Linked DNA regions of Homo sapiens: all the other regions are linked to region 2. The links come from fine-mapping of genetic effects on plasma protein levels. A gene starts in region 2. Each other region holds a variant in brackets. All regions are shown on one strand. Distances are from middle to middle. Region 1 overlaps TNFRSF10B (TNF receptor superfamily member 10b). Region 2 holds the start of TNFRSF10B (TNF receptor superfamily member 10b). Region 3 overlaps TNFRSF10B (TNF receptor superfamily member 10b). Region 4 overlaps TNFRSF10C (TNF receptor superfamily member 10c). Region 5 overlaps RHOBTB2-AS1 (RHOBTB2 antisense RNA 1).

Evidence for each region. PIP is the posterior inclusion probability: the model's chance that the variant is causal. Protein levels are from antibody-based Olink assays in UK Biobank. Linkage for the fine-mapping came from a reference panel and not from the study's own genotypes, which makes the PIPs less certain.
Region 1: its variant is fine-mapped to the plasma level of the TNFRSF10B protein (UK Biobank, PIP above 0.99). The variant lies in the coding sequence of TNFRSF10B. If it changes the protein, the assay may bind it differently, which can mimic a change of level.
Region 3: its variant is fine-mapped to the plasma level of the TNFRSF10B protein (UK Biobank, PIP above 0.99).
Region 4: its variant is fine-mapped to the plasma level of the TNFRSF10B protein (UK Biobank, PIP above 0.99).
Region 5: its variant is fine-mapped to the plasma level of the TNFRSF10B protein (UK Biobank, PIP above 0.99).

The regions. Positions count from the first base shown.
Region 1 is chr8:23,040,756-23,046,869 of GRCh38, forward strand. TNFRSF10B (TNF receptor superfamily member 10b) reads right to left here. Exons shown (of 9, transcript NM_003842.5): 2 at 2,383-2,488. Among named protein-coding and RNA genes, the nearest start is that of TNFRSF10B, 25 kb to the right of the region's middle. The variant G/A (reference allele first, on the strand shown) is at 2,433.
Region 2 is chr8:23,065,677-23,071,790 of GRCh38, forward strand. It overlaps TNFRSF10B (TNF receptor superfamily member 10b), which reads right to left and starts at 3,355. Exons shown (of 9, transcript NM_003842.5): 1 at 3,075-3,355. The coding sequence starts at 3,218. It also overlaps the pseudogene TNFRSF10B-AS1. RefSeq lists promoters at 734-4,447, 3,215-3,885, enhancers at 2,739-2,998, 3,539-3,588, 3,609-3,778, 4,560-4,854, 5,176-5,675 and a cis regulatory region at 3,340-3,345.
Region 3 is chr8:23,020,502-23,026,445 of GRCh38, forward strand. TNFRSF10B (TNF receptor superfamily member 10b) reads right to left here. Exons shown (of 9, transcript NM_003842.5): 8 at 3,687-3,759; 9 at 1-2,483. The coding sequence ends at 2,170. Among named protein-coding and RNA genes, the nearest start is that of RHOBTB2-AS1, 24 kb to the left of the region's middle. The variant T/C (reference allele first, on the strand shown) is at 1,720.
Region 4 is chr8:23,112,502-23,117,501 of GRCh38, forward strand. It overlaps TNFRSF10C (TNF receptor superfamily member 10c), which reads left to right. Exons shown (of 5, transcript NM_003841.5): 3 at 2,156-2,269; 4 at 3,007-3,115; 5 at 4,140-4,944. The coding sequence ends at 4,530. Among named protein-coding and RNA genes, the nearest start is that of TNFRSF10C, 12 kb to the left of the region's middle. The variant G/A (reference allele first, on the strand shown) is at 2,193.
Region 5 is chr8:22,985,403-22,991,516 of GRCh38, forward strand. The region is part of intron 1 of RHOBTB2-AS1 (RHOBTB2 antisense RNA 1); the gene reads right to left. It also overlaps a transcript of RHOBTB2 not described here. Among named protein-coding and RNA genes, the nearest start is that of RHOBTB2, 11 kb to the right of the region's middle. RefSeq lists an enhancer at 2,290-3,046. The variant C/T (reference allele first, on the strand shown) is at 3,002.

The DNA of each region.
Region 1 (6,114 bases), 25 kb before region 2:
TATATGCTAGCCACAAGATTCCTGAATTATTTTTATTAATATTGAAAGACATTCTAAAAAATCCAAATTACACAAACCTTACTTAATAATGTAAGTATCATACATAATCATAGTGATTCATGTCACTGATAAAAACGTGATTATTTAATAATAGTGTTGGGGCAACCAAAAAGGTGGCTGTCAAATAATAATGTGTCTTCCTCACTCTCCTCTTACTACAAAATGAAGTCCATGTGGCTCAATGACTTAATTACAAAATAGGAAACCACAAAATGACTGCAAAGATATATGATAATTTTTTTTTTGTTGTTTTTTTTTTTTGAGACAGGGTCTCACTCTGTCACCCAGGCTGAAGTGCAATGGCGTGATCTCAGCTCACTGCAACCTCTGCCTCCCGGGTTCAAGCGATTCTCCTGCCTCAGCCTCCCAAGTAGCTGGGACTACAGGCACGCCACTATACCCAGCTAATGTTTGTATTTTTAGTAGAAACAGGGTTTCGCCATGTTGGTCAGGCTGGTGTCAAACTCCTGGCCTCAAGTGATTTGCCCACCTTGGCCTCTCGAAGTGCTGGGATTACAGGTGTGAGTCACTGCGCCCGGCGTTATATGGGAATTTTTATTAGAATTTTGGACCCAGCGCAGTGGCTCACGCCTGTAATCCCAACACTTTGGAAGGCCGAGGTGAGAGGATCGCTTGAGCCCAAGTGGTTGAGGCTACAGTGAGCTATGATCCTGCCACCGCACTCCAGCCTGGGCAACAGAGTGAAATCCTATCTCAATCAGTCAATCAATCAATCAATCAATGTATAATTTCCCTAATCTGTAAGAATTCATGTGACTCAATGATTTAAAAAAAAAAAAAAAAAAAACCTAACCTCTTACTAGGAGTGAAGAAAACCTAGGAGAACCAGTGTACAAACAGTGTCTGTGTCATGAACAGATTCTTGACCTCATTCACAGGAAGAGAAATGCACATTTCGAGGAGTTTCCACATCTCAGTCCTTGACACTTGCTATGGCCTGCTCCCTGTGGCTGGAAGGGCCATCTCTCCTCTAGGATGGAAGTTCTCCAACTGCTCCTGCTCAGCCCATTGCAGTCCTGTCTCCCTGGCCTATCGTCTCCAACTTCAAATCCTCATGGGCTCAGTTGTGCCCCTCCTCAGTATTTACAACTTCTTCCAGGTGGACACACTCAAGACAGCGGCTTCAAGCATCACCTATGTGCTAGGGTCCCCAAATGTGTACTGCTAGCCCTGCCACACACTGTCCCCTCAGAGGCCAAGTTACCCTGAGCAGTTGAATTTGGTGCCTCGATTGTCCTCATTCCCCACACGTCATCCATCCACACCCCAAATATGTCTTGAGTCCTTCCTATTCCCGTCCTGCTTCCTGGTCTTGACCCTGGACCACAGCAATAGGAGCATTTACAGATGAGTTTGTGTCTGCTTCACGCTGGGTTCTTCCTTCTCCATGCTCTGCTCCTGGCAAGCCCACATGTGCAATGTGAGGGTTTGCCCTCAGGCAAGCCTTTCCTGTGGCCCTTAGTCATGGAAAAGAAATGCAACTTTGTAAATGGATTTTAAAAGCCACTGCTTGCCACACTTGCCTGCCCTGGAAACCTTCATGCAGCAATCAATTCCTAACTCATACACATGGGGGAAAAGGGGGAAGAAGTGCGAGGCGAACACAACAGTCAAGCACACTTCAGGCCAGGTTCCTGCTGCATCTCTGGGGGCTCAAATGACCTTACGGGACACCACATAACATCCCAGGGGAGCGCCTCACACTCAAGGCCCTCCACCTGCTTCCTGTCTTGCTCCGGTTCAGTCCAGGAGTGGGCACTCAAGATGTACATCCGATGCTGGTGGCCCTCTGCTGAAAACTTCTCAGGGACATCCATCACTCATGAAATAAAATCCAGCTTCATCTGTGTGGGATCTGACCCCACGTGTCTCTCTAACTTCCTAACCCTCCACTCCCCACAGCAGCCCCCTGCTGTTGCTCCATCTTCTCCAACTCTTGCCCCCTGGCAATTGTTCCAGTGGAACCCTCCTAGGAGCACTCTTCCTGGCTCTCTGAACCTCTGGCCCTGCCCTCCTCCGGATGTCAGCCCAAAGTCACCATTGCCTGGAGGCCTCACCAGCCCCATCTCTGTCCCACTCAATTCTCTCTCAAGGTTCCTATCAGTTTCTTTGGCTGTCTCATTCATTTGTGTGTCTTGATACCATCCTAGCAGGAAGGCTCCAGAAGGACAGAGCCTTGAACTGGAGGCACCCAATGCCTCTCTGTGGAATAAAGAACAAGGAAGTGCAAAGGAAACAGACTGGAAGCTCATGGAGACAAGGGGAGGAGGGGCAAGGATTAGAGACCCATCTTGAACATACCAGGTGGACACAATCCCTCTGAGGGGCTGGACCTCTTTTGTTGTGGGGCC[G/A]CTCTCTGCTGGGGAGCTAGGTCTTGTTGGGTGATCAGAGCAGACTCAGCTGAGACCTGTGGGGACAAAGCAGGGATGGGCATGAGTGGCTTCCAGACCTCACCCCTCCCAGGATCCACTCACATTCTCTTGAGCCCAGGCACCCAAGCTAAACAGAACCCTCATCTTTCTTGCAGCTCTCACCTCTCAAACATCCTTTAGTGTTTGTTTGTCCCTTCATATTTCAGGGAAGGCCAAGTAACATACACCTGCAAAACTCTTCTAAACATGTTCATTCCAGAAAATGTGGGCAAGGAAAGTTTTTACAAGAATACACAGACCACACGTGATATTCTCAGCTAAAGATAGCATCCATTAATATTTTGTCTCATTTAGTTCCACTATTTTTCCATAGGTATGCCTATTCTCTCTTTCTCTCTTTCTCTTATTCTCTCTCACACAGACATACACACAGACACACATTTTTATAAATGGGGGTTATAATATAGCAAACTTAAAAAATTGGGATACAGGATCAAACATTAAATAGTGAACTTCTGATTTAAAAGGTGCCTGACATATAGACCAGAGAGCCCAGAAATGAACTTGCACGTACAACCATGTATTGCTCAACATTGTTCTGAGCAAAGGGTCATTAGGCAATTGTGTTGTGTGAACATCAGAAGAGTGTACTTACACAAACCTAGATGGTGTATCCTATGACACACCTGGCCTATATGGTATAGCCTTTTGCTCCTAGGCTACAAACCTGTGTAGCATGTTACATAATTGCATGGAGCCACCATCACATATGCAGTCTGTTGTTGACAGAAATGTTGTTATGTGGTGCATGACTGTATATGATCAAGTAATTTTTGGCAAAGGTATAAAGACCATTTAATTGAGAGGACAATCTTTTTAAAAATGGTCTTGGGAAATCTAGACATTGACTCATCACAAAACAATGACCTCGGACCTTTAACTTACACGTATACAAAAATTAACTCAAAATGGATCCAAAATCTAACATAAAAGTGAAAACCCTAAAACTTAGAAGAAAACATAGGAACTATTCTTCCTGACCTTGGATTTGGCAATGATTTCTTGAATGTGATCCCCAAAACACAAGCAATATAGGAAAAAAAGTAGATAAATTGCACTATGTAAAAATTAAAAACTTTTGTGCATCCAATGATGATCAACAGTGAAGGGGCAACCCACAGGAAGAGGAAAACATTTGCTAGTTGTATATCTGATAAAAGGTTAATATCTAAAATATATAAAAAACTCCAACTCAACAACAACAACAAAAAGCCAACAATGTGATTAAGAAATGAACAAAGAACTTGAATGGTAACAAGCTCCTGAATAGCCAATGTGTCAAAGAGGAAATCAAAAGGGAATTTTAAGAGTATATTAGAAAATGAAATGGAAACATAACATAACCAAATGTATGGGATGCAGCAAAAGCAGTTTTAAGAGGAAATGGCAATAAACGCCTACATCAAAAAAGAAGAAAGATCTCAAATACAAGACTTAATGTTGTACCTCAAGGAAATAGAAGAAAAGATACACTAAGCCCACAGTTAGCAGAACAAAAGAAATAATAAAAATCAGAGCAAAAATAAATAGAGACTGAAAAAAATACAAAAGATTATCAAAATTCTGTTAGTTTTTTGAAAAAATAAATGAAATCACTAAACTTTAACTAGACTAACTAAGAAAAAAGAAAGAAGACAAATAAATTAAATCAAAAATGAATGAGGAGGCCAGGTGCAGTGGCTCATGCCTATAATCCCAGCATTTTGGGAGGCCGAGACGGATGGATCACTTGAGGCCAGGAGTTGGAGACCAGCCTGGCCAACATGGCAAAACCTCGTCCCTAATAAAATACAAAAAAAAAAAAAAAAAAAAAAAGCCAGGCATGGAGGTGTGCATCTGTAATCCCAGCTACTTGGGTGGCTGGGGCACAAAAATCACTTGAACCTGGGAGGTGAAAGTGGCAGTAAGCTGAGATTGTCACACTGCACTCCAGCCTGGGCAACAGAGGGAGACTCTGTCTCAAATAAAAAAAAAAATGAGACACATTACAATGCATACCACAGAAATGCAAAGGATCATATGAAAATATTATGAACAATTATATGCCAAAGGATTGAACCACCCGGAAGAAATGGATAAATTTCTAGACACATACAACCTACCAATACTGAATCATGAAGAAATGGAAAATCCGAACAGACCAATAATGATTAAGGATATTGAATCAGTAATGAAAAGTCTCCTATCAAAGAAACACCCAGGACCCAGAAGGCTTCACTGCTGAATTCAGCAAAACATTTAAACAAGAACTAAAACCAATCCTTTCTAAACTTTCCCAAATAAATTACAGAGGAGGGACTACTTCCAAACTTATTTTACAAGGCTTGCATTACCTTGATACCAAAGCCAGAATAGAACACTGTAAGAAAAGAAAATTATAGGCCAATATCTCTAATAAACACAGATGCAAAAATCTTCAATAAAATACCAGTAGACCAAATTCAATAGCTCATTAAAAGAATCATTGACCATGATAAAATGGAATTTGTTCCTGGGATGCAAAGATGGTTCAACATATGAAAATCAATAAATGTGATATACCATATTAACAAAATGCAGGACAAAAACAATATGATCACCTCATTAGATGTAGAAAAAGCATTTGACAAAACACAACATTCTTTCATGATAAAAACTCTAATCAAATTAGGTGTAAAGGGAATGTATCAACACAAAAAAAGCCTTATATGACAAGCTTACAGCTAATATCATACTCAGCAGTGAAAAGCTGAAAGCTTTTCCTTTAATATCAGGAACAACACAAGGATGCTCACTCTCACCACCTCTTTTCAACATGGTACTGGAAGTCCTAGCCAGAGCAATTAGGCAAGAAAAAGAAAAGAATTATTAGGTATTCAAATAGAAAAGGAAGAAGTAAAATTGTCTATTTGCCGATGACATGATCTTCTGTATAGAAAACCCTGAAGACTCCACCAAAAAACTGTTAGAAATTTGTAAACAAATTCAGTAAGGTTGTGGGATACAAAATCAACATATGAAAATCAGTAGCATTTCTATATATTAATAATGAACTATATGAAACAGACATTAAGAAAACAAACCTATTAAGAGCAATGACAAAAAAAAATTAGTAAATTTAACTAAGGAAGTGAAAGACCTGTATGTTAAAAACCGTAAAACACTAATGAACAAAACAGAAGAGACAAATAAAACGGAAAGAGACACAAATGCATGAAAATAAATGTTCATGACTTGGAAGAACTAATATTGTTAAAATGTCCATACTATCCAAAGCAATCTATAGGCTCAATGTAATCACTATCAAAATTCCAATATCATTTTTCATAGAAATAGAGAAAACAATCCTAAAATTCATATGCAACCATAAAAAAAAAAAAAAAAAAACACAAATAGCCAAGGCAATCATGATCAAAAAGTACAATGCTGGAGGCATCACACTACCTGATTTCAAACTATACTACAAAGCAATAATAATTAAAACAGCATGGCACGGGTATAAAAATGGACATATTGACCAATGGAACAAAATACAGAGCCTATAAATGAATCCACATAGCTATGGTCAATTGATTTTTGCCAAAAGTGCCAAGAATACACAGTGGGAAAAAAAAGTCTCCAC
Region 2 (6,114 bases):
ATAAAAGCTAGTATCAGAGGAGCAAACTGATCCTCAGTTTTCTGTGACCAGAATAATGCCCAATAGACTTTGAAAGAACACAGTGATGTTCGGTACCCAAGAAAGCAAAATTCACAATGTCAAGCAATAAGAAATTACTATGCATGAAAAAAAAAGTCCCTATGGGCAGGAAAAAAAATGTAATCAACAGAAACAGTGGCCGTAATAACAGATATAATGGTGTTGATAGATTAAATAACTTAAAACAGGTCATCTAAAGCTTACAAATATACTCAAGAATATTTAAAAAACAGAAAAACAAAAAACACCACCACCAAAATCATAGGTTGCGCACGGTGGCTCAGGCCTGTAATCCCAATACTTTGGGAGGACAAGGTGGGAGGATTCCTTGAGCGCAGGAGTTTGAGACCAGCCTGGGCAACATGGTGAAACCCCGTCTCTACTAAAAATACAAAAATTAGCCAGGTGTGGTTGCAAGTGCCTGTGGTCCCAGCTACTTGGGAGGCCGAGGTGGGAGGATCACTTGAGCCCAAGAGGTTGAGGCTGCAGTGAACTCTGACTGTGCCACTGCACTCCAGCCTGGGTGACAGAGTAAGACCCTGTCTCAAAAAAGAAAAACACAAAGATGACCAGGAAATAGATGGAAGATATTAAAAATGCCAAAAGAGAACTTCTAAAGTTCAAAAAATATATATCTGATATACAGTAGATGAGATTAACAGCAGGTTAGATTCTGCAGAAGCAGATCAATGAACTTGAAGAGCCCTCACAGGGAAATGTCCAAAGTGAAACATAGAAAATGATGGGGGAAAAAAAAGAACAGATACTAAGTTAGCTCTGATACAAAATCTAACATTCTAACGTAAATATAATAAGATCTCAGTCACCAGAAGAGACAGAGTATTTGAAGAAATAATGGCTGAAAATCTTCCAAGTAGAACATAAACTCGGCTGGGCGTGGTGGCTCACCCCTGTAATCCCAGCATTTTGGGAGGCTGAGGCGGGCAGATCACGAGCCAGACCATCCTGGCTAACACGGTGAAACCCCGTCTCTACTAAAAATACAAAAAGTTCGCTGGGCGTGGTGGTGCATGCCTGTAGTCCCAGCTACACGGGATGCTGAGGCAGGAGAATGGCGTGAACCCAGGAGGCAGAGGTTGCAGTGAGCTGAGATCCCACCACTGCACTCCAGCCTAGGCGACAGAGGCAAGACTCCATCTCAAAACAAACAAACAAACAAACAAAAACATAAACTCTAAAACCCCAAATCCAAGAAATTCAACATAACTCTGTTGTGGCTTTCTTTCTTTCTTTTTTTTGAGTTGGAGTCTTGCTCTTGTCTCCCAGGCTGGAGTGCAGTGGCGCCATCTCTGCTCACTGCAACTTCTGCCTCCCAGGTTCAAGTGATTCTCCTGCCTCAACCTCCCAAGTAGCTGGGATTGCAGGTGCCCACCACCACACCCAGCTAATTTTGTATTTTTAGTAGAGACGGGGTTTCACCATGTTGGTCAGGCTGGTCTCGAATCCCTGACCTCATGTGATCTGCCCGCCTCGGCCTCCCAAAGTGCTGGGATTACAGGCATGAGCTACCAGACCCGGCTGTTGTGGCTTTCTTTACAGAAAAGTCTCCAAGGAGAACATAAACTCTAAAACCCCAAATCCAAGAAATTCAACACAACCCAGTTGTGGCTTTCTTTACAGAAAAATCTTCCAAGTAGAAAGAACATGAAAGTCTAAAGCCAAAAATCCAAAAAATTCTTTATAGAGATAAAAAAAAAACCCCACAACAGAGCAAACAAACCAAATCACTGCAAACCAGTGCTAAGAAAAATCTTTAAAAGCAGCCAGAGACCAAAGATCCACCACCCAAAGAGAGGCAAGATGCCCTGGGGACCTAGGCCCACAGAAACCACAGCAGGAGGGGGAGGCAGAGGCCCCTGTACACTCTCCTCACTAGGACAGTTAGGTCCTCCCTCCACTCAGAGGTGAGACCAAGGACATACTGTGGTGTGGGGCGGAAACAGTGAAAACATGAGGTGTGTAACAATATCCCATGAAACTCCAATGCTTCACACTGACATTCTTCTAGGTCAACACCAGCATTCTCTTGACCTTCCTTTCACTGTTCCTCCTCTCCCTTCCAGCCCCTCTGTACAGTCTTGAGTTAGGTCTAGGCCCACACACTTCCCCACTCTGAGCTGCGGTCTCTTCCTCTGTAAAATGTGATGATTCAGAACCTCTCCTGGCCCCAAGCGCAGTTCCAGGCGCTGAGCACACCATGCTGTTCCCTACAAAGCCGACTCTTTGTCCCTTCCCCATTATCACGGATACTTGCCAAGAGGTGGCAAGAAAGGCTCTTCCCAGGCCAAAATGCAGCTGCTATTATCAAGCAGGTCAGGCCCCAAGTGCCACAACTCCCTTCTCCTAAATCTCGTTTTCCCAAGGAACCCCAAACAATGGCATTGGCGATGAGCGGCCCCGCACGCGTAGGGGCGCAGCCGCTAAGGAGGGGAAGGGGCCTCTCCAGCTGCGCCCGCGACGACTCCCGCGCACGGAACGGAACCACTGGGCCGCAGCGACCACAGGGGAGTTCTTCGCCGGCCGCAGGTTCAAAGCGATCTGCAATGAGCGCCTTTAGGAATTCATTCGAAGGCGCAAAAGAAAAAGAAATTAAGGCAGGAACTGAGCGAGGAAGGAAGGGAGGGAAAGAAAGGAAGAAAGAGAAAAAGAGAAAGAAACAGAAAGTAAGGAAAGAAAACAAAATCAAAGTCCGACGACCTCTCCGTGGCTTCACGCAGCTTACTCGGGAATTCCCTCCTTGTCGCCCTCCCCCACTGGATTCGGGAATTTACACCAAGTGGAGCGCGCGCTCTGTTCCCTGGCGGCCCAGGTCGCTCCTGCCCAACCCGGGGACCCATCTCTTCCCCCGACTCCGACGACTGGTGCGTCTTGCCCGGACATGCCCGGCCGCAGGCGACCCGGGCCACGCACCCCCGCCGTGTCCCCCTCTCTCCCTGCCCTCTCCAGGCGCCAGGCACGCTCTTCCCCAGCCAGGGACCGCGGCGGGGACTCACCAACAGCAGGACCGCGGCGACAACGAGCACAAGGGTCTTGGGGACCCGGGGCCCAGGCCTGGCTCCCCGCGCCTCCCTGGGTCCTGGGCCGTGCCTTTTCCGGGCCCCCGAAGCGGCCGGGGCGTTCTGTCCCCGTTGTTCCATGGCGGTAGGGAACGCTCTTATAGTCTCTCAGGCCCGTGGGTTTCAGCCCTTAAAGTAGATCGGGCATCGTCGGTGTATTTTGTGGGCGCAGAGATTGCGGGGTTCTCCGGCCGCGTGCTGATTTATGTGTCCAGGCTGACTTGGGGCGGCGCGGCTGTACTTTCACTGCCTCCGGGCAGGCGTCATTCGGGGCGGGGCGAATCAGATCCAATGTGCAACTGCAAATTCCACCACAGGTTGGTGACAATAAATAAGAGTCTCGTCAACGCAATCCTCCGCAAGCGCGTCCAAGTGGGGAGGGGAGGGGAAGGGACCGGAACTAACCTTCGCCCTGGCGGCTGCGCCCCGGGCTGTGGTTTGTTTCTGGGTCCTGTCCGCGCCAGGACAGGCACCGAAACTTGGGGGAAATGAGTTGAGGGAGGCACTTGGGGAGTTGACGCCTCCCGGGGTCGCGCGCTTGGCTGTGAACAGGGTCTTGAGGTTCAGAGTCCGCTTTCCAGGCGCGTCTTGATCTTCTCCCCTTCCCAGGGGCACCTGCCCCTTCTGTTCTCTCCTTCTCTCTTCTTTCCTTTTTTCTTTCGTTTTCTTTCGTTCTTTCGTCTTCTTTCCGTCCTTCCTGCTTTCTCTTTCCTTCCTTTCTCTCTTTCTCTTTCCTCCCTCCCTCCCCCTCCCCCTACCTCCCTTCCTTGTGGTTTATTTTTTGAGACAGTCTCTCTGTGGCTCAGATTGGTGAGCGGTGGTGTGATCCCGGCTCACTGCAACTTCCGTCTCCCAGGTTCAAGCGATACTCCCACCTCAGCCTCCCATGTAGCTGGGACTACAGGCCTGCACCACCACGCCTGGCTAATTTTTGTATTTTTAGTAGACACAGGGGTTCACTATGTTGGCCAAAAGACCATCGAACCCAGCTTACACTCACACCTAGTCCACAAATGTGCCTGTGTCCCTGCACCCTTGCTACACTTAGCTTTCATTTGTCACTAGTCTAGGAAATAAAACATGATACATCACATTGTTATGTATTTTCATTCCTTCATGGTACTGTGTCCGGAATTGGTGGGTTCTTGGTCTCACTGCCTTCAAGAATGAAGCCTCGGACCCTCGCGGTGAGTGTTACAGTTCTTAAAGGCGGCGTGTCTGGAGTTTGTTCCTTCTGATGTTCGGATGTGTTCGGAGTTTCTTCCTTCTGGTGGGTTCGTGGTCTCACTGGCTCAGGAGTGAAGCTGCAGACCTTCCCAGTGAGTGTTACAGCTCTTAAGGCAGTGGGTCTGGAGTTGTTCTTTCCTCCTGGTGGGCTCGTGGTCTCGCTGGCTTCAAGAGTGAAGCTGCAGACCTTCAAGGTGAGTGTTACAGCTCATAAAGGCAGTGTGGACCCAAAGAGTGAGCAGTAGCAAGATTTATTGCAGAGGGAAAGAAGGAAGCTTCCACAGTGTTACCACTGCTGGCTCTGGCAGCCTGCTTTTATTCTCTTATCTGGCCCCACCCACACCCTGCTGATTGGTAGAGCGGAGTGGTCTGTTTTGACAGGGCGCTGATTGGTGGTTTACAATCCCTGAGCTAGACACAAATGTTCTCCACTTCCCCACCAGATTAGCTAGATACAGAGTGTGGACACAAAGGTTCTCCAAGGCCCCACCAGACTAGCTAGATACAGAGTGTCAATTGGTGCATTCACAAACCCTGAGCTAGACACACGGTGCTGATTGGTGTGTTTACAAAACTTGAGCTAGATACACAGTGCCAATTGGTGTATTTACAATCCCTTAGCTAAACATAAAGGTTCTCCACGTCCCCACCAGACTCAGGAGCCCAGGTGTCGTCACCCAGTGGATCCCGCACCGGGGTTGCAGGTGGAGCTGCCTGCCAGTCCCGCGCCGTGCTCCCGCGCCGTGCGCCCGCACTCCTCAGCCCTTGGGTGGTCGATGGGACTGGGCGCCCTGGAGCAGGGGGAGGTGCTCGTCGGGGAGGCTCCGGCTGCACAGGAGCCCACGGAGGGGGTGAGAGGCTCAGGCATGGCGGTCCCGAGCCCTGCCCGTCGGGAAGGCAGCTAAGGCCCGGCGAGAAATCAAGCGCAGCGCCAGTGGGCCGGCACTGCTGGGGGACCCAGTACACCCTCCGCAGCCGCTGGCCCGGGTGCTAAACCCCTCATTGCCCGGGGCCGGCAGGGCCGGCCGGCTGCTCCGAGTGCAGGGCCCGCCGAGCCCACGCCCACCCGGAACTCCAGCTGGCCCGCAAGTGCCGCGCGCGCAGCCCCGGTTCCCGCTCGCGCCTCTCCCTCCACACCTCCGTGCAAGCTGAGGGAGCGGGCTCCAGCCTTGGCCAGCCCAGAAAAGGGCTCCCACAGTGCAGCGGTGGGCTGAAGGGCTCCTCAAGTGCCGCCAAAGTGGGAGCCCAGGCAGAGGAGGCGCCGAGAGCGAGCGAGGGCTGTTGAGGACTGCCAGCAAGCTGTCACCTCTCAGTACTACGGATTTTCAAGAATACAGGAGTTTTTGGTACTGGGAGTAGATGACTGGGGGGATCCAGGCAAGACTACAGGGGAGGGCGGCAGAGAAGACTTAATTCCCAGCTGTGTACTTGGAAAACCGTGCTCAGCTGGGGCCAGTCCCTGCCAACCGCCATGCCTGTTAATGGAAATAAGGTCTCCATCCTCAGGCTGTCAGGGTGACTTCAGATGAGCCTGGAGCTGAGCTCAGTTCCGGACCCCAGGTCCTGGCTCTGTCAATGCCGGACTGGTCCAATCTCTATGCCAGGTCCTTCCAACCCCATCCCTCTCTTTATCAAAGTAGGAATCAAGAAGATCCGAAGGCTCAGGCTCTCAGGTTGTTAGAGAGTACTGAAATTGGAGGCTGTGGATGGCTGGGCCCTGCCGTGCTCCCGGTCCAGCTCTGACTCTGGT
Region 3 (5,944 bases), 45 kb before region 2:
ACCAACATGGTGAAACCCCGTCTCTACTAAAAATACAAAAATTAGCCAGGCGTGGTGGCGGGTGCCTGCAATCCCAGCTACTCCGGAGGCTGAGGCACGAGAATCGCTTGAACCCAGGAGGCGGAGGTTGCACTGAGCCAAGATCGTACCGTTGCACTCCAGCCTGGGCGAGAGAGTGAGATTCTGTCTCAAAAAAATTAAAAATAAAAGAAAAATCTTAAACACTGATAAGGCTGACACTCTAGATGCATCTTCTAGGAAGGCCTCTGTGGAAGGGACAAGGGACCTGGGACCGGACTGGCACCTTCTGAGCCCTGAGGCTGAGCGTCCTGCACAGAAGGCCCAGCAAAGGCAAAGACCAGGAGGCAGCAGCACCCTGTGCCTTCCAGAAGTGCAGGGGACAACGCGTGGGATGCCAGATGGAAGTGGGAGAGGATGGAAGTGCAAAGACCAGAAAGGTCACCCCCCACTCCTAAAACTCCACAGACACAACAGTCTGAATGTGTGATCTTCAGGCAATTCTAACTTTGTCCCACCCAAACCAGTCCCGGAACAAAACACACAATGCCTTGAGACAGAAAAGACCAAAAACTCCTGGAATGACTACCTGCATAAATGATCCTTCCATGACTGAAATACTATGGAGAAGGGTTTGCTGGAAAGAGGCTGAAATGGTTACTGAGGTCTTAAAACAATAATAGAACAGGACACAAGAAGAAAACCTTAATGCGTCAGCCATTCTAGGTCCTGTTGCCACAGTGTTTAAGAATTGACATTTCTGAGATGAGTCAGATGCTTACAGAGCGGCCAAGGTCCTCAAGTAGGCAATCTGTACCCTAAAAGGCAGCTCATGGGCTCAGGGTGACAGATAACCAGAAGTGAGCCGGGCCATCTACTCCTGAGATGGCAACCATTTCACACCATTCTCAAGCACCATCTACTCTTCCCCCTTGATGCCATGGCAGACGTGGGAGACAGATTTTGTCTTCTATCTCCTGAGCCCAAACAGGGCTCAAGTTCACTTGGGATATGACATAGACCCTATTGTTATGTGTGATCTAACCCATCTGCCTCTGTCCCAGCCTGTCCATAGATGGGGGCTATGGGTGCAAATGAGACTGCCCAGGTAGGGACCAGCCACACACAGGACTTCACGTGGATCCAGTTCTCTTTGGTCCCGACTCATATGTAAACAACTACCTATAAATAATACTCATATACTTGTAAGGTTGTCCAGTTCAAAAGACTGGCCCCTGTAGAAGTTGCCAATCATTGAAGCCAAAGTACATCTGAGGGAGGGCTGGAACCCAGACAGTGACATCTTACAGGGGACTTCTTCTTCTTCCCCCATTGTATGTCTCCTCCTTTTATGTTTATCTAATCTATTCACATAACTATGTAAACAAGTACATTTACTAAAGTTTCTTCATGTTCATAAAATAATAACATACAGAATTATAAAAGTAGAAAGGTAAGGCCAAGCATGGGGGCTCACGCCTCTAATTCCACCGCTTTGGGAGTCTGAGGTGGGCAGACTGCTTGAGTCCAGGAATTCGAGACCACCCTGAGCAACATAGAGAGCCCCTATATCTAGACAAAATACAAAAAATTAGCCGGGCGTGGTGGTGCACACCTGTGGTCCCAGCTATTTGGATGGCTGAGGTGGGAGAATCGCTTGAGCCTGAGAGGTCAAGGCTATAGTGAGCCAAGATTGCACCA[T/C]TGCACTCCAGCCTGGGAGACAGAGTGAACTGCCCCGCACCCCCCACCCAAAAAAGGTTCATATCATATAGTATCAAGTGAAGTCGGACAACGACTGTGTAGATGGATCTTACAATGTAGCCCAAATAAATAAATAAAGCATTTACATTAGGATAAAAAAGTGCTGTGAAAACAATGACATCCCAAACCAAATCTCAAAGTACGCACAAACGGAATGATCCAGACATTTCCATAGTGTCCTTATTATCACATTCAGCTTATAAAAATAATGCCAAGTGCAGTGAAAAGTTACAGGATGTTCCATCCACTGGGTGATGTTGGATGGGAGAGTTTCTTCCAGTACCGGTCATGTGACAATTGTGGCACTTTCCTACTGACTGGAGTCCAGTTGGGCTTTTTCCAGAAAAAAGGTAAACCAGGGAAGGTCTGACTTCCTGAAGAGAATCACACTTAGGACATGGCAGAGTCTGCATTACCTTCTAGATACATGAACTTTCCAGAGCTCAACAAGTGGTCCTCAATCTTCTGCTTGGCAAGTCTCTCTCCCAGCGTCTCCAAGGCATCCAGCAGGGTGTGGACAGAGGCATCTCGCCCGGTTTTGTTGACCCACTTTATCAGCATCGTGTACAAGGTGTCCCTGTGGCCCGCTGCCTCAGCTTTAGCCACCTTTATCTCATTGTCCATGAGGCCCAACTTCCTCATGAGCGGCTCCCAGGAGTCAAAGGGCACCAAGTCTGCAAAGTCATCGAAGCACTGTCTCAGAGCTGGTGGAGAAAGCCACAGAGACAGCCAGGTGAGTTGGGACTCAGAAAGGGCAGAGGATTCCACATCAGGCCCAGAACCCAAGGCGGGGAACCTGGAGAGCCCCGTGTGCGGGCAAACCTGCCGCTCCAGTGCCCACCCGCTTCCCATCCACAGAGAGCGCGCCCACACTGCCTGGCCTCCCCCACACGCAAGGCACTGCGGGGAGTCAAAGTCGTCAGAGAATCAGCCCTCATACAGGGCTGAGAACCCACCAGGGGAGTATGGATGGACGTTACAGAGGCAGAAAGTAAAGTGCGTGAGAGTCCGAGGGAGGGAGAGACAGTGGCTGCAGCGGGAGCTTAGAGGAGGGAGGAGGCTGCCTGGGCTGCGCTTGTCATGGGAGCAGGTCCCAGGGCGGCCACTTCTGCATCTGTGGAAAGCACAGGGCCTGGGACAGGGGACCTCTGTTTTCACCCAGCTCGGCCTCACTTCCTGGGGCTGGGGCAGAGCTAGGTGGAGGCAAACAGACTCTGAGCAAGAAGTGAACCCAAAGACCGAGCAATGCTGCCCAGATCTCGGGACGATGAGGGATTAAATGAGACGTGTGTGCAACATGATGCACCTCGCCGTCCTCAGAGATAGACAGGGTCAGGAACACGAGGCTATGTTTTCCAACAGCCTTATTTTAAAGAACATCAGAAACAAGTGACATTCATTTTAATGTATGGTACTGAATATATTTAAAATATAATTTAATATACAATCAATATACAAAAATTATGAGTGAAATATTTTCCACTCTTTTTTGCATTAAGTCTTTGGCATTCGTATGTAGTTTACACAACAGCTCTGCAAATTGGGCTGAGGCACAGGTCAAGAGCTCCTTAGCCCACTGGGGTTAGTGGTGCTGTGCAGGACAGGCCAGCCCCTCAGGAGGTCCTCAGGGGCAGGCGGGGGCTACATCAGGCCCTGAACAAAGGAGGAGAGAGGATGAGGGGACGGACAGAGTCATTAGGGTCAATGATAGGGTGCAGAGAGGATGAGGTAGAGTGGGGAGAAGAGATGGGAGAAGACAGTTTAGGGTCCAGATGGTCTATAGCACAGGACCCACGGCTTCCAGCATGGAATACTCTGGAAGAGCCCTCTGACCTCTGGGGACAGCAGTTAGGACCCTGTCCCTATTCCCTCCATTCCTGCTGCATCTCCAGGAGCAAAACACTTACTCTCAGTGGGATCACCTTCATTTGCTGGAACCAGCAGCCTCCTCCTCTGAGACCTTTCAGCTTCTGCCGGTTCCTGTAACACATAGTGGGGAATGTCCTGGTCAGAGCCAGGAGTCCTACAGTCCAGTACTGACCCCGACCACCAGCCAGCTCTGAGACCTGCAGCACGTCACTTCCAGAACATTGTTCTGAAAGGTCTGGCAACAAGACAGGAGACAAAGGGGCAAGACTCTCGGAAGGAGGCCGATACAGCAGTCAATATTTTAGATTAGGAGTGTATATTTTTAAAACCCCAAGGTTTAATTTGTAATACTCAAAAGTGAATATGTCTTGATGATTTTTTTTTTTTTCGAGACAGAGTCTCACTCCGTCTCCCAGGCTGGAGTGCAATAGTGCGATCTTGGCTCACTGCAACCTCCACCTCTGGGTTCAAGAGATTCTCCTGCCTCAGCCTCCCAAGTAGCTGGGATTACAGGTGTGCACCACCATGCCCAGCTAATTATTTTATCGTATTTTTATATTTTTAGTAGAGACAGGGTTTCACCATGTTGGCCAGGCTAGTCTCAAACTCCTTACCTCAGATGATCCATCCGCCTCGGCCTCCCAAAGTGCTGGGATTACAGGCGTGAGCCACTGCACCTAGCCCTGATGAATGTTAAACCACATAGCAGAGGCCAGGCATGGTGGCTCACACCTGTAATCCCAGCACTCTGGGAGGCTGAGGTGTGAAGACTGCTTGAGCCCAGGAGTTTGAGACCAGCCTAGGCGACATAGCGAGATCCTGTTTCTAAAAATAAAATAAAATAAAATAAAATAAGCTGGGTGTAGTGGCACAAAACTGTCGTCCGAGCTACTCAGAAGCCGGTAAGTCCGAGCTTACTTGGCCTTAGAAGGTCAAGGCTGCAGTGAGCCATGATTGTACCACTGCACTCCAGCCTGGGTGACAAGAGTGAGACCCATCTCAGAAAGAAAGAAAAGAAAAGTAGCAGCAGACATAATAAATTAGAAAATGGACTTACAAGAAGACCCAAAATGCAAAGAAACAGCTTTGATGAGGAATAGGAAAAATTTATCTGAAATAAACTCCCAAATCTCGATTGAGTCATAATAGAACACTTGACTTGAAATATTATCTTCTTTGATAATAAAATTGAATGTTGAAAGGATGTCAATCATTCCTAGAACCATGTATTAATTTAAATTAATATTTGTAAAGTCTAGTGACTATGTGGGCGGGAGGGGTACTAGAGAAAATCTTATAATTCTAAATTTTATCTAATTCTAAATTATAAGATGTGTAAAAATAATTTTGAAAACATATTTGCTGTCTAAGATATTAAAACATATTAGACAGTTTTGTTTGGTGTTGTACATGATATAATCCTTTTCATGTCAATACCACATAAATACATATGCATTTATGTACCTAGATGGTATATGCATAAAGAGTTTAGCAAAGAATCACAAGAAATTATCCACTGTAGTTACCTGAAATAAGAAGGGCCAAAAGGCTGGGAAAGAGTAAAGAAGGCTCTTGGTATGATCAAGTTTTTTCATACTCTGGTGGATGTGTGGCTATGGGTGACCTGCTTTCAAAAAATGATCAGGCCAGGCATGGTGGCTCATGCTTGTAATCCCAGCATTTTGGGAGGCCAAGGAGGGTGGATTGCCTGAGTTCAGGAGTTCGAGACCAGCCTAGGCAACATGACCAAACCTCGTCTCTACAAAAAATACAAAACTTAGCTGGGCACGGTGGCACATGCCTATAGTTCCAGCTACTCAGGAAGCTGAGGTGAGAGGATGACATGAGCCCAGGAGGCAGGGGTTGCAATGAGCCAAGATGGTGCCACTGCACTCCAGCCCAGGTGATAGAGCAAGATCCTGTCTCAAAAAAAAAAATCTTCAAAGTCATTAATAAGCATGGAGGAAGTATTGGCATTGTTCATTTGTTTCCTTTTAAAATCTCTTCTCTTTATTTAAAAAGAAAGTGGTACAGATGCAAGGAAGAAACAGAAACAGTCTAGGTGGAAGAGATCTCTGCCCATATAAACATTTGACATTTTCAAGGATAAGATCTAGTTTTTTTTTGTTTGTTTGTTTTTTTAAAAAAGAGTGAAGAGGAAGAGAGAAAAAAGTAAACATTTGACATGTAGCAAAGGAGGTGGCAAAAGGGCAAAGGCAAGGGAAAAAGGAAGAATTGGTTGCTAAATGGGCTTGGAAGAAGGAAACAGAGACTCAGAATAATTCAGGGAGTTTCT
Region 4 (5,000 bases), 46 kb after region 2:
ACCATTCTGCTCTCCACCTCTATGAGACCAACTTTTTCTGATTCCACATATGTGAGATCATGAGGTGTTTGCCTTTCTGTGCCTGGCTTATTTCACTTAGCATAGTATCCTCCAGCTTCATCCATGCTGACACAAATGACAGAACTCCCTTCTTTTTAAAGGCTGAATAGTATTCCATTGTATCTATGTGTCACATTTTCTTTAACTTTTCATCCATCCATGGACACGTAGGTTGATTCCATGTCTTGACCATTGTAAATAATGCTCCAATGCATATGGGAGGGAAGATATCTCTTCAATATACTGACGTCATTTCCTTTGGATGTATACCCAATAGTGGGATTGCTAGATCATATAGTTGTTCTATTTTTTGTTTTTTGAGGAACCTCCATACTGTTTTCCATAATGGCTGTACTAATTTCCATTCCCACCAACAGTGTACCAGCATTCCTTTTTCTCCCCATCATCAACACTTGTTACCTTTTGTCTTTTTGGTAATAGCCATTCTTACAGGTGTGAAGTGATATTTGGCACTTGATGGTTAGTGATGCTGAGCATTTTTTTCATATACTTTTTGGCCACTTCTATGTCTCCTTTTGAGAAGTGTCTATTCAGGTCCCACGCCCATGTATCCATTTTACTTGGATTATTTGATTGTGTGCTATTGAGATGTTTGAGTTCCTGTGTATTTTGGATTTTAACCAAAATCTTGGATCTTTTGAATATTGACCCTCATTCTGTAGGTTGTCTCTTCACTCTGTTCATTGTTTCCTTTGTCATGCAGAACCTTTTTAGTGTAATGTAACCTCATTTGTCTGTTTTTCCTTTTGTTGCCTGTGCTTTTGGGGTCATAGTCAAGAAACCATTGCCCAGACCAACATCATGAAAATTTTCCCCTATGTATTCTTGTGGTAGTTTTACCATTTCAGATCTTATGTTTTAATCTTTAGTCCATTTTGAATTAATTTTTACATATGATGTGAGATAAAGGTCTTATTTCATTCTTCTGCATGTCAATACCTACTTTTCTCAACACCATTTATTGAAGAGCTGTCCTTTCCCCATTTTGTGTTCTTGGTATCTTTCTCACAATCAATCAACTGTAAATGCATTGATTTATACCTGGGTTCACTATTTTGTTCCATCAGTTTATTTACCATTGTTGTGCCATTACCATTCAGTTTTGATTACTATACTTTTGTAACACGTTTTAAAATCAGGTAGTACGATGCCTCCATCTTTGTTCTTTTGTTTGTTTTGCTTAAGATCACTTTGGCTATTTGAGGTCTTTTGTAGTTCCATACAAATCTGGGCGTGGTGGTGCGTCGCCTATAATCCCAGCTACTCGGGAGGCTGAGGCAGAAAAATCGCTTGAACCAGGGAGTTGGAGGTTGCAGTGAGCCGAGATTGTGCCACTGCACTCCAGCCAGGTGACAGAGCAAGACTCTGTCTCAAAAAAAAAAAAAAAGACACATGAATATACATAACAGTCAGGATGTCCTGATGGGAACCATGAAGAATAGTTAAGTGACAGGAGATAGACAAGGTTGGTGGGGCCTCTCGGGGATGGTGATTTGGGCTGATATTTAAAGTTGGACAGGGCCAGTCTTGCAGAGAGCCAGGAAGAGTGCTCTTGAGAAGGCCCTGAAGGAATGAGAACCCCAGGTTTCGGGGGCTTGGGGAGACTGAGCGAAGACAGGGGGCCACTGTGGTGAGTGGACAGCAAACAGGTCAGGTGGACCAGCATGGGCAGATCACATGTACAGTAGGTTGGATGTTATTTTGTGAGTGACGGCGTAAAAAAAGTAAAATATCTCAATGATGTGTATTGATTACATGTTGAAATGTAGTATTTCAGATATTTTAGGTTAAAACTATATTGTTAAAATTAATTTGGCCTCATTCTTTTTACTATTTTAATATGGCTCTCATAGAATTTGAATTTTGCATAGAATTTGAATTTTGTATTATATTTCTGTCAGCAGTGCCAGTCAAAGGTATGTAATAGATGCTGAATGGATGACAAGACCAAGCCTGGAAGAGTGGATTTCTCTGTCTCAATTCCAGTGAGGGCCAAAAAAGAAGTTTCCCCACCACTGTCAGCCTCTGGGAATTCTGTGGTGACTCATTCATTGGCTTTTCTCTTCCTTCCCAGGATCTCATAGATCAGAACATACTGGAGCCTGTAACCC[G/A]TGCACAGAGGGTGTGGATTACACCAACGCTTCCAACAATGAACCTTCTTGCTTCCCATGTACAGTTTGTAAATCAGGTACAGAATGTGTGGACCTCTTGTCCAGAGGTGGAGCGTGGGGCAATGAGGTGGGAGTTGTAGCCGATATGAGTCAGGGAACCAAGTTCCAGCCCAACCTGGTCTTCATCACCCTGTTCTATGATTATATATTTGACTGATTAAAAAAATAGAAAGAAATCTTTTCTATAATGCATGCCACCTGGCTGGGAAATCGTCTAAACTGTCAGCTGCAAGAGGGTGGGGGGATCATTAGAGCATAGAGAAGGCCTGGCCCAGTGGACAGGGCTAGGTTTCAGTAGTGGCACGGGTCTGCTCCAGGGCCAGGCTCTCTCCCCCAGGCTCTGTGCTCCTGGCAGGTGCTCGGCCTCACTCAGCCTTCAGGTTCTCAGGCCCCTTCCTCCTCCCCAGCAGGCCCAGGCTTTGGGGAAGTCCCCCAAGGCCTCCGTCTCCTTGCAGAGTCTCTCAGGTGATGCCCTTGCACCTCCCTTGCTACTGACCATGCCATCTAAACAATGCTTTTCCCCTAATCTGATGTAATAAATAATGAATTATGCTCCTTTTTATGACTCCTCTGAGTGCTGGTGACAGCTGAAGGGTGGGTGTCCTGTATGAGCCCTGAGTGTGCTGGTGCAGAAACTGGCCCTTAGAACTCCTTGGTGAACTTGGTTGAGCTGAGTGGGAGGGGGTGGGTGGTAAGGAAGATCGAGGGATACATCAGGGAAACACATTCCCAAAACCTTATGCTCTGTTGTCAGATCAAAAACATAAAAGTTCCTGCACCATGACCAGAGACACAGTGTGTCAGTGTAAAGAAGGCACCTTCCGGAATGAAAACTCCCCAGAGATGTGCCGGAAGTGTAGCAGGTGAGACAGCAGTCAGGGGCTCCTGACAGCTTTCAGGAACCCGAGAAGACCTGAGTCACCTGGTACCCCTATTTCTCCGCTGACCCTATGGAGCCTCCAGACCCATGGGGTGTCCCTGAGCCTGTGGGGTCTCTTGGGTCTGCAGTGGCCGCTCCTGGTCCATCTGCCTGTCCCCACCCCTACCCCCTGCAGCAGCCCCTTCCCAGACCCTCCCCAGCACGAGTCCCCTTGGCCAGACCAACTTGTTCACTGGGCACAAGAAGCAACTTTCTGGATCCCTTGATCCTTTTCAGCAAACCTAGGAAATGCGATTTCCTTTTGAAATGAGAAGAAAACACTTGAATCCAGTCTGGGTTGTATTTGTTGCTATACCAAGCTGTTTTAAAAAATGTTCTTTTTAATATTTTTTATGCAGGCAGGACCCATAAAGACAAAAGTGGTCACGGCCGACAAAAGTCATAAGAAGGCTGTGGGTGGAGCTCCTTCAAGTTCCCATGAAGGCCTGAGCCAATCCAGCCGGCCTCACCCCTGGCCCCAATCCCTCAATAAGTCCTGTCTTTTCCCTATTTGGGCTTTAAGGGCCAAGAGTAATTTGTTCTTCTCTGGCCCCCTAATGTTTGCCGTGATAGGGAGGAACCAGCAGACAGTTGGGGGTGAGAGATCACTTGTACTGTGGGTTGACTGGAGGAAGGGGCTCAGCTTGTGGCCACAAGGGCTCGTGACCTTCCCCTGGAGTGTGGCTCCTCCTAACGCAGGCCTCCTCTGCAGCCCAGGGAAGCTCAGTGTGTGCCCGGCACAGAAGGCTCCTGTGGCCCCAGAGCAGGGAGGCTGAGGGGCTGAAATGCGCATGCTCAGACCCTTCCCCAGCCTCAACGAGGGAACTTGGGGGACCCCCTCCAGACAGGAGCCTGTCCTTCCCCTGACACCTTCTCAGGGACATTGGAGAGGGAGGGTGGCTCCCCTTTTATCCCACCTGGCTAGCTTTCCCTCAGGAGTCCTCACCTCCCTCTCTGTGTGTACCCAGGTGCCCTAGTGGGGAAGTCCAAGTCAGTAATTGTACGTCCTGGGATGATATCCAGTGTGTTGAAGAATTTGGTGCCAATGCCACTGTGGAAACCCCAGCTGCTGAAGAGACAATGAACACCAGCCCGGGGACTCCTGCCCCAGCTGCTGAAGAGACAATGAACACCAGCCCGGGGACTCCTGCCCCAGCTGCTGAAGAGACAATGACCACCAGCCCGGGGACTCCTGCCCCAGCTGCTGAAGAGACAATGACCACCAGCCCGGGGACTCCTGCCCCAGCTGCTGAAGAGACAATGATCACCAGCCCGGGGACTCCTGCCTCTTCTCATTACCTCTCATGCACCATCGTAGGGATCATAGTTCTAATTGTGCTTCTGATTGTGTTTGTTTGAAAGACTTCACTGTGGAAGAAATTCCTTCCTTACCTGAAAGGTTCAGGTAGGCGCTGGCTGAGGGCGGGGGGCGCTGGACACTCTCTGCCCTGCCTCCCTCTGCTGTGTTCCCACAGACAGAAACGCCTGCCCCTGCCCCAAGTCCTGGTGTCTCCAGCCTGGCTCTATCTTCCTCCTTGTGATCGTCCCATCCCCACATCCCGTGCACCCCCCAGGACCCTGGTCTCATCAGTCCCTCTCCTGGAGCTGGGGGTCCACACATCTCCCAGCCAAGTCCAAGAGGGCAGGGCCAGTTCCTCCCATCTTCAGGCCCAGCCAGGCAGGGGGCAGTCGGCTCCTCAACTGGGTGACAAGGGTGAGGATGAGAAGTGGTCACGGGATTTATTCAGCCTTGGTCAGAGCAGAACACAGAGATTTTCCGTGTGTTGGTTTTTACTCTAGTTCCCCTTCTCATCCCCCTTCCTCAGGGT
Region 5 (6,114 bases), 80 kb before region 2:
TAGTGGGAGTGTGCTTAACTAGGAGGCTGCACGTCTGTCCACATTCCAATGCTTCAAAGGAGTGTCTTTCTCCTTGAACACAGTGTTTATAGATAAGAGAGCAGGTCTCGCTCTGAGCATGGGAACATGATGGCAATTAGGAGGCTTTCCTCCTCAGAGGCCTCTTGTGGCTTTCCACAACTTATTGTCCCATATTTTTATGGCCAGTTTATGCAGGCGCCCCACAAGCCCTTTTCCCAACAGGGAGGAAGGTGCGATGGAGGGCTGGAAGCATGCTTTTCCGGCATTCCCTATAGAACATTCCCAGCCAGACCTGCCTGATGAGAAGGCAGAGGATTGACCAGACCTCAGGGTGTGTCTTCACAGGCACTCCAATGCCCCTGACCTGGCCAGCCGTTCCTCTGCCTGGAGTCACTCTTCGGGCTGGAGTTACATGTAAGGGCATTGTTTCTAGAACCCACTCAGGCTCTCCCCTGGCCTACCCACCAGTGCACCCACAGGAGTCAGCCCAGCAGGCGGCACAAAGCCCTTCTCAACAGAGGTGCTAGCAGGCGCAGGAGCAAGGCTGGGACCCCTCAAGCCTGGGAAGCTGGAAGGGGGAAGCAGGTCAAGGACAGTTAAGTAAGAGATGGGAAAAGTAGTTGCCTTCCAGAGGAGTGGAGAACCAGGGGGCCTCTGCCAGTGACTGCAGCGAACATCAGAGACCCATGGGAGGGAACACTGCAAGGACGGTGGACTTCTCTCTCTCTCTCTCTCTCTCTCTCTCTTTCGTATTTAACTGATGAGGCACTTGGTAAGGGGTTGCCAGGGAATGGGTTGCTGGAAATGAATCCAGGTCTTCGATTCCCAGCCCAGTGCATTGCTTTTTTTTTTTTTTTTTTTTTTTCTGGGAGACAGGGTCTCACTCTTTTCGCCCAGGTGTGCAGTGCCTCACTGCAGCTGCAGCCTCAACTTCCTGCGCTCAGATGATTCTCCCACCTCAGCCTCCTGGATAACTGGGACTACAGTCATGGGCTACCATGCCTGGCTAATTTTTTGTAGAGACGGGGTTTTGCTGTGTTGCCCAGGCTGGTCTTGAACTACTGGACTCAAAGTATCCACCCACTTCAGCCTCCCAAAGTGCTGGGATTACAGGCATGAGCCACCACGCCTGGCCCCCAGTGCATTGTTATGGCAATTTTCTTTCTCTCTTCCCTTCTCCAGAATTCTATCCAGGGCCAACCCGTCAAAACATATTGAAAATGGAGAGAAAACAGAGCTCAAGTAATTTGGAGTGACATGGAGGCATGATCACCTCAGTATAAAGGTCCTTAGCATCCCAAATCAGGAGCTATCAAACCTATAGGACTCACAAAAAGGTAAACTAAGGTCCAGAAATCCACTCCAAGAAGCATAATGGCCAGTCTAGATTTTACACTAGATCAGTCCTGCTTCACATGTCTCCCGGCTGGCCAGCCCCGGATGTCCGGCCACTGTGAGCCGATAGCTTTTCTGCTGTTTGTTTTCTACCTGTGTGCAGGTGAGCAGAAGTAGGAGCAAAGCCTCCTCCCATCAACCAGCAACCACCCCTACCTTGCTTCTTCGTGGCCTTCCCTCTCCCCACCTTCCATGGCCTCTAGCTCAGGTAGCCAGAATTAATTACTGGTGGGGTTGAAGCCATAACTTGTTCCCTGGCTGTAGGCCAGGCTCTCAAGATGTGCGTCAGAAAGGCCAGTGAGTGAAATTCCAAAGCAGTGTGAGTCACCAGGGGCTGAGAAGAACAGGCCAGGACAATAAGAGCAGGATGTGGACCAAAATAGTGCCCTGAGGGCCAGGGGCTGGGCCAGGCATCAAGAATGCTCACCTGGCCAAAGATGGGGAACAGGGCCTCCGGTCTAGGTGGTTTATCTCTGTGCTCTGCACAGCCCTGGACGGGGAACAAAGCCTCTGGCCCAGGGTTTATCTCTGGGCTTTGCACAGCCCTGGAGGAGGAGGGAACTGACCAGCAGGCCGGCCCCCTGGTCACAGGAATCATGTCCTTCACCTGCCTTCCCATAAGCTGGACTTTGGATCCCAGCCCTTAAAACCCTTGTGTTGTTTCTTCCTGCAGACCTGGTCGAGAACACTACTTCAGGACAGGGAATAGTGACAGGCCAGCAGAGCCCCAGAGGCGAGGTGGCAGGTAAGTCTACAATCCTTGGGCCCTTGCTCTGTGCCCAGGGAAAAGAGAGGGATCTCCAAGCCCTGGCTTCTCTAACCTATCTTCACCTGGTCACTCACAGCACTGCACAATTTCCAGTTCTCAGAATCAGATTTCTTCCAAAGGAGGGATGTGTGAAGGGAGCACGAGGGGTGGGGGCAATCAGCAATCAGGAATCTTCCCCATCAAGGTGCGGTGGCCCCTGGACTGTGGCCCAGCAGCAACCTGTGGCAGCCAGATCTGGGGCAGGAGGTGGAGGGCTTCCACTCGTCATGAGGGTGTCCAGGGGGAGTGTCACCAGTCGCCATGTGCCAGCGGCAGGCCTGGATGCCACTCTCTCCTTGTGACCCTGGCCAGGACGGAACGGAAGGCCCCCAAGATCAAGTAGATGACACTGCACCCCACCCCCCACAACCCACTGAATCCTATCCATCCAGAGGGGTCACTGGCCAAGGGGAACACAGGAACAGCTTGTGATAAAGGGCCGCCTAGGCCCTCATGCCCACTCTATCTCCTGCCCCTCCCCAACTGAAGGCTGCTCTCCAGCATCTCTGTTGTCCTGCTCCTTCCCCTTTTTTTTTTTTTTTTTTTTTTTTGAGATGGAGTCTCACTCTGTCACCCAGGTTGGAGTGCAATGGCGCAATCTCGGCCCACTGCAAACTCCGCCTCCCGAATTCAAGTGATTCTCCTGCCTTAGCCTCCCATGTAGCTGGGATTACAGGGGCCTGCCACCATGCCTGGCTAATTTTTTTGTTTTTTTAATAGAGACAGGGTTTCAGCATATTGGCCACACTGGTTTCGAACTCCTGACCTCAAGTGACC[C/T]GCCCACCTCGGCCTCCCAAAGTGTTGGGATTACAGGCGTGAGCCACCGCACCTGACCTCCTTCCCCCTTTTCTTACTACTCACTCCCACGTCCTGGGTGGCCCATTCATGGCTCCACCCAACTCTGGGAGCTCCCCATCCTTCAGGCAGCAGGATCCATTTATCAAGAGAAACTGAGCAGCATCCCTAATCCTCTCCCTCTCTTGCCCTCAGCCCCCCAAATTTTGTTCCTTTCTGTAGCCACACTTGGCCAGGAGCTCTCAGGCTTACTGTAGGAATTCCTTCCAGGGCAACAGAGACCCCCAACCACTCCCCCACCCACAACCCAGCCAGGCTGCTGTCACTTCCTCGCAAAGGAGTAGCTGAATGGGTCACCCTGGCTTTTGGAAGGGTTGGGGCTGAGACAGATGCTAGCGAGGCTATGATAACTCAGACAAGGGGCTGAGGCTGATAGCCTCCACCGACACAGGTGGAGAAGGGCACGGGCTCTGCAGAAGTGGCAGCTTGGCTGATTTGGGCCCTCTTACCTCACCATGTAAGGATCTTGCTGGCCCTGTTAAGTTCACCTTTGCCTCAGACTGTAAGTTAAAGAACTTTGTATCTTCTCCCTCTTCCCTGACCTCTAGAGGAAACTCATCTGTAACTGCTAAGACCTGTCAGTTCCTCTGATGGCCATCTCTATCAATACACGCATACTTTCCTTCAATTGAGTTAAAAGTCACGTGCCTTGAAGCAAGAAAACATTTCCACTTTCTTTTTTTTGAGACTGAGTCTCTCTGTGTCGCCCAGGCTGGAGTGCAGTGGCACTATCTTGGCTCACTACAACCTCTGCCTCCTGGGTTCAAGCAATTCTCCTGCCTCAGCCTCCCAAGTAGCTGGGATTACAGGTGCATGCCACCACGCCTGGGTAATTTTTGTGTTTTTAGTAGAGACAGGGTTTCATCATGTTGGCCAGGCTGGTCTTGAGTTCCTGGCCTCAAGCAATCCACCAGCCTTGGTCTCCCAAGTGTTGGGATTACAGGCATAAGCCATGCATCTGGCCGCATTTCAACATTCTTAACTCCCTACTGGGCAAGGATTGTTCCCCGGGGTGCTTGTGGATGTGGCAGGGCTCCAGGTCTAGTTTCAGCTGAGCCATTCCTGCCTCTCTGTTCTGTCTCCCTAACATGTCTTAGGCTAACATCATACAATCAGAATTTCAGAACTTGGGGATCATCTAAGGAAACTGCCTAGGTTCAGGCAAGCAAGAGGAAACTGAAGGCCAGAGGTAAAAGCTGGCATCAGAACCACAGCGCTGGGGTCTGACACAACTGCAAACTAGCCGTGACTTTGCGTAGGCCTCAGTTTGCTCATCTGTAAGATAAAGAGGGTGATTTTGACATACATTAAGCATAACGTGCTAGGGCAAGAGGCCTCAGGGCTGTGCTGTGCGTCTGTCTCCCCAAGAGGCTCTGAGCCAGACGCCTGATGAGAACCCTCATCCTGCCTGCCTGCTTTGCAGCCCTGGCAAGTCACATCCCCTCTCAGAGCTCCAGTTTCCTTCTCTGCCAAATGCGGATAAGAATAGTTCCTCCATCTCATAGGATTGTTTTGAAATTTAAATGAGGTAGTACATGCAGCACAATCCCGGGCATGTAATAAACATTCAGTAAGTTATTATTAGTATTAGTATTATTAGACTTAAGCTCCTTGATGACATGATAGCATATCATCATTTTATCATCCTCACCATCTCTTGCACAGGGTGTGGCACTAGCGAGAGCTTAACATGCATTTGATAAATGAAAAAAAGAAAGGATAAACGAAGGAAGGACCAAACAAGTCTCATATTTTTCAGAGAAAAGGGGGACCCAGGTTAAGCAAGGGGACTTGGGGTGCTGTACAGGCAGGTCAGGTGTATTTTGGCCCAGAAGGGCTGCTGGTGCACCCGTGCCACCTTCGCCCTCCACACCCCCAGCACCCCACCTTGCAGGCCTGCAGCTGGGAGGCAGCCTGCAGGCAGGACATCTTGGCTGGACCTTGGACTTGATACCTCCTAGTCCCCGGCTCTCTGGGCCTCAGTTCTGCATCTGTGAAGGGGCGGCCGCTGTGAGGCTTTGCAGAGGTGGCAGCGCGTCAGTCCACTCTAGGGAGACTCTCCCCTCCAGCCAGGCTTCCACCAGCAGCCCAGGCTCCCAGGGGGCTCTCTGTTGGCACCTCCCAGAAGGAGGAGGAAGAGGGTGGGTTGGGAGGAAGATCATGTGACCTAGAGTGAATGTTTCCAGGCAAGTGGTAAGCCACAGACAACCAGAAGGTTGAGGCGTGTGTTTAGTGGCTTTTGAGGCACCCTGAACCGTGTGTCCAATGGGCAGTACAGCAGCAGCCTGTGGCCCCCGCCGCTCAACCCAGGCCCCCGCATCCCAGGCCATCTGGGGTCCAGCCTGTTCCACAGAAGGCTTCTAGCTCAGCATCGGCTTCTTGCCTCTCCAGTCCCTGCATCAGCTGCCTATGGTCTGGCCTGCTTGCCTGCCTCCCCCGACCTCAATTCATGCCTTGTGGAGGGGTCAGAGGCTGTGTCGGGGGGAATAGCCATGTCCTGCAGCGCAGTGCTTTGGCTGTGACAAGTCAGACTGGACACTTGGTTTTCTCCACCCAAGTCCTTTCCCTCTTCTTAGCTTAAAATTTGTCACTCTGGGAGGGGGTGGGATTCCCGTGGGTGAGCTCAGAGGTAGCTGCTAACTTGGGCTGATGGGAGCCTGAGAGAGGGCTGTGGGTCCGGAGAAGGCCAAAGCAATGCAGCTGCCCTGTGGGCTTCTCATCACTGTCAGCACCTCAGGAAACTTCTGGCCGGCTTTCCCTGCCCTCGTCCATCCAGGGCCCATCCAGCCTTGTATACTTCCCACCAGGGTCCCTGGGGTCCTGGCCGTCCCAGCCTGCTAATCTGTGAGCTGTACAAGCCAGGGCCATGTGCATTTATTTTTACAGAAATCTCTGCTCAGGAAGTGAGGAAAGGATAGGACAGATAAACAAAAGGGAGGAGGAGAAGTGAGGAGGAAAGAAGGAGAAAAGAGGGGTCTGTGAAGATGGGCTGGAGGGTCTTTGATGGATGAATGAGTCTGGTGGAAAACACAGAG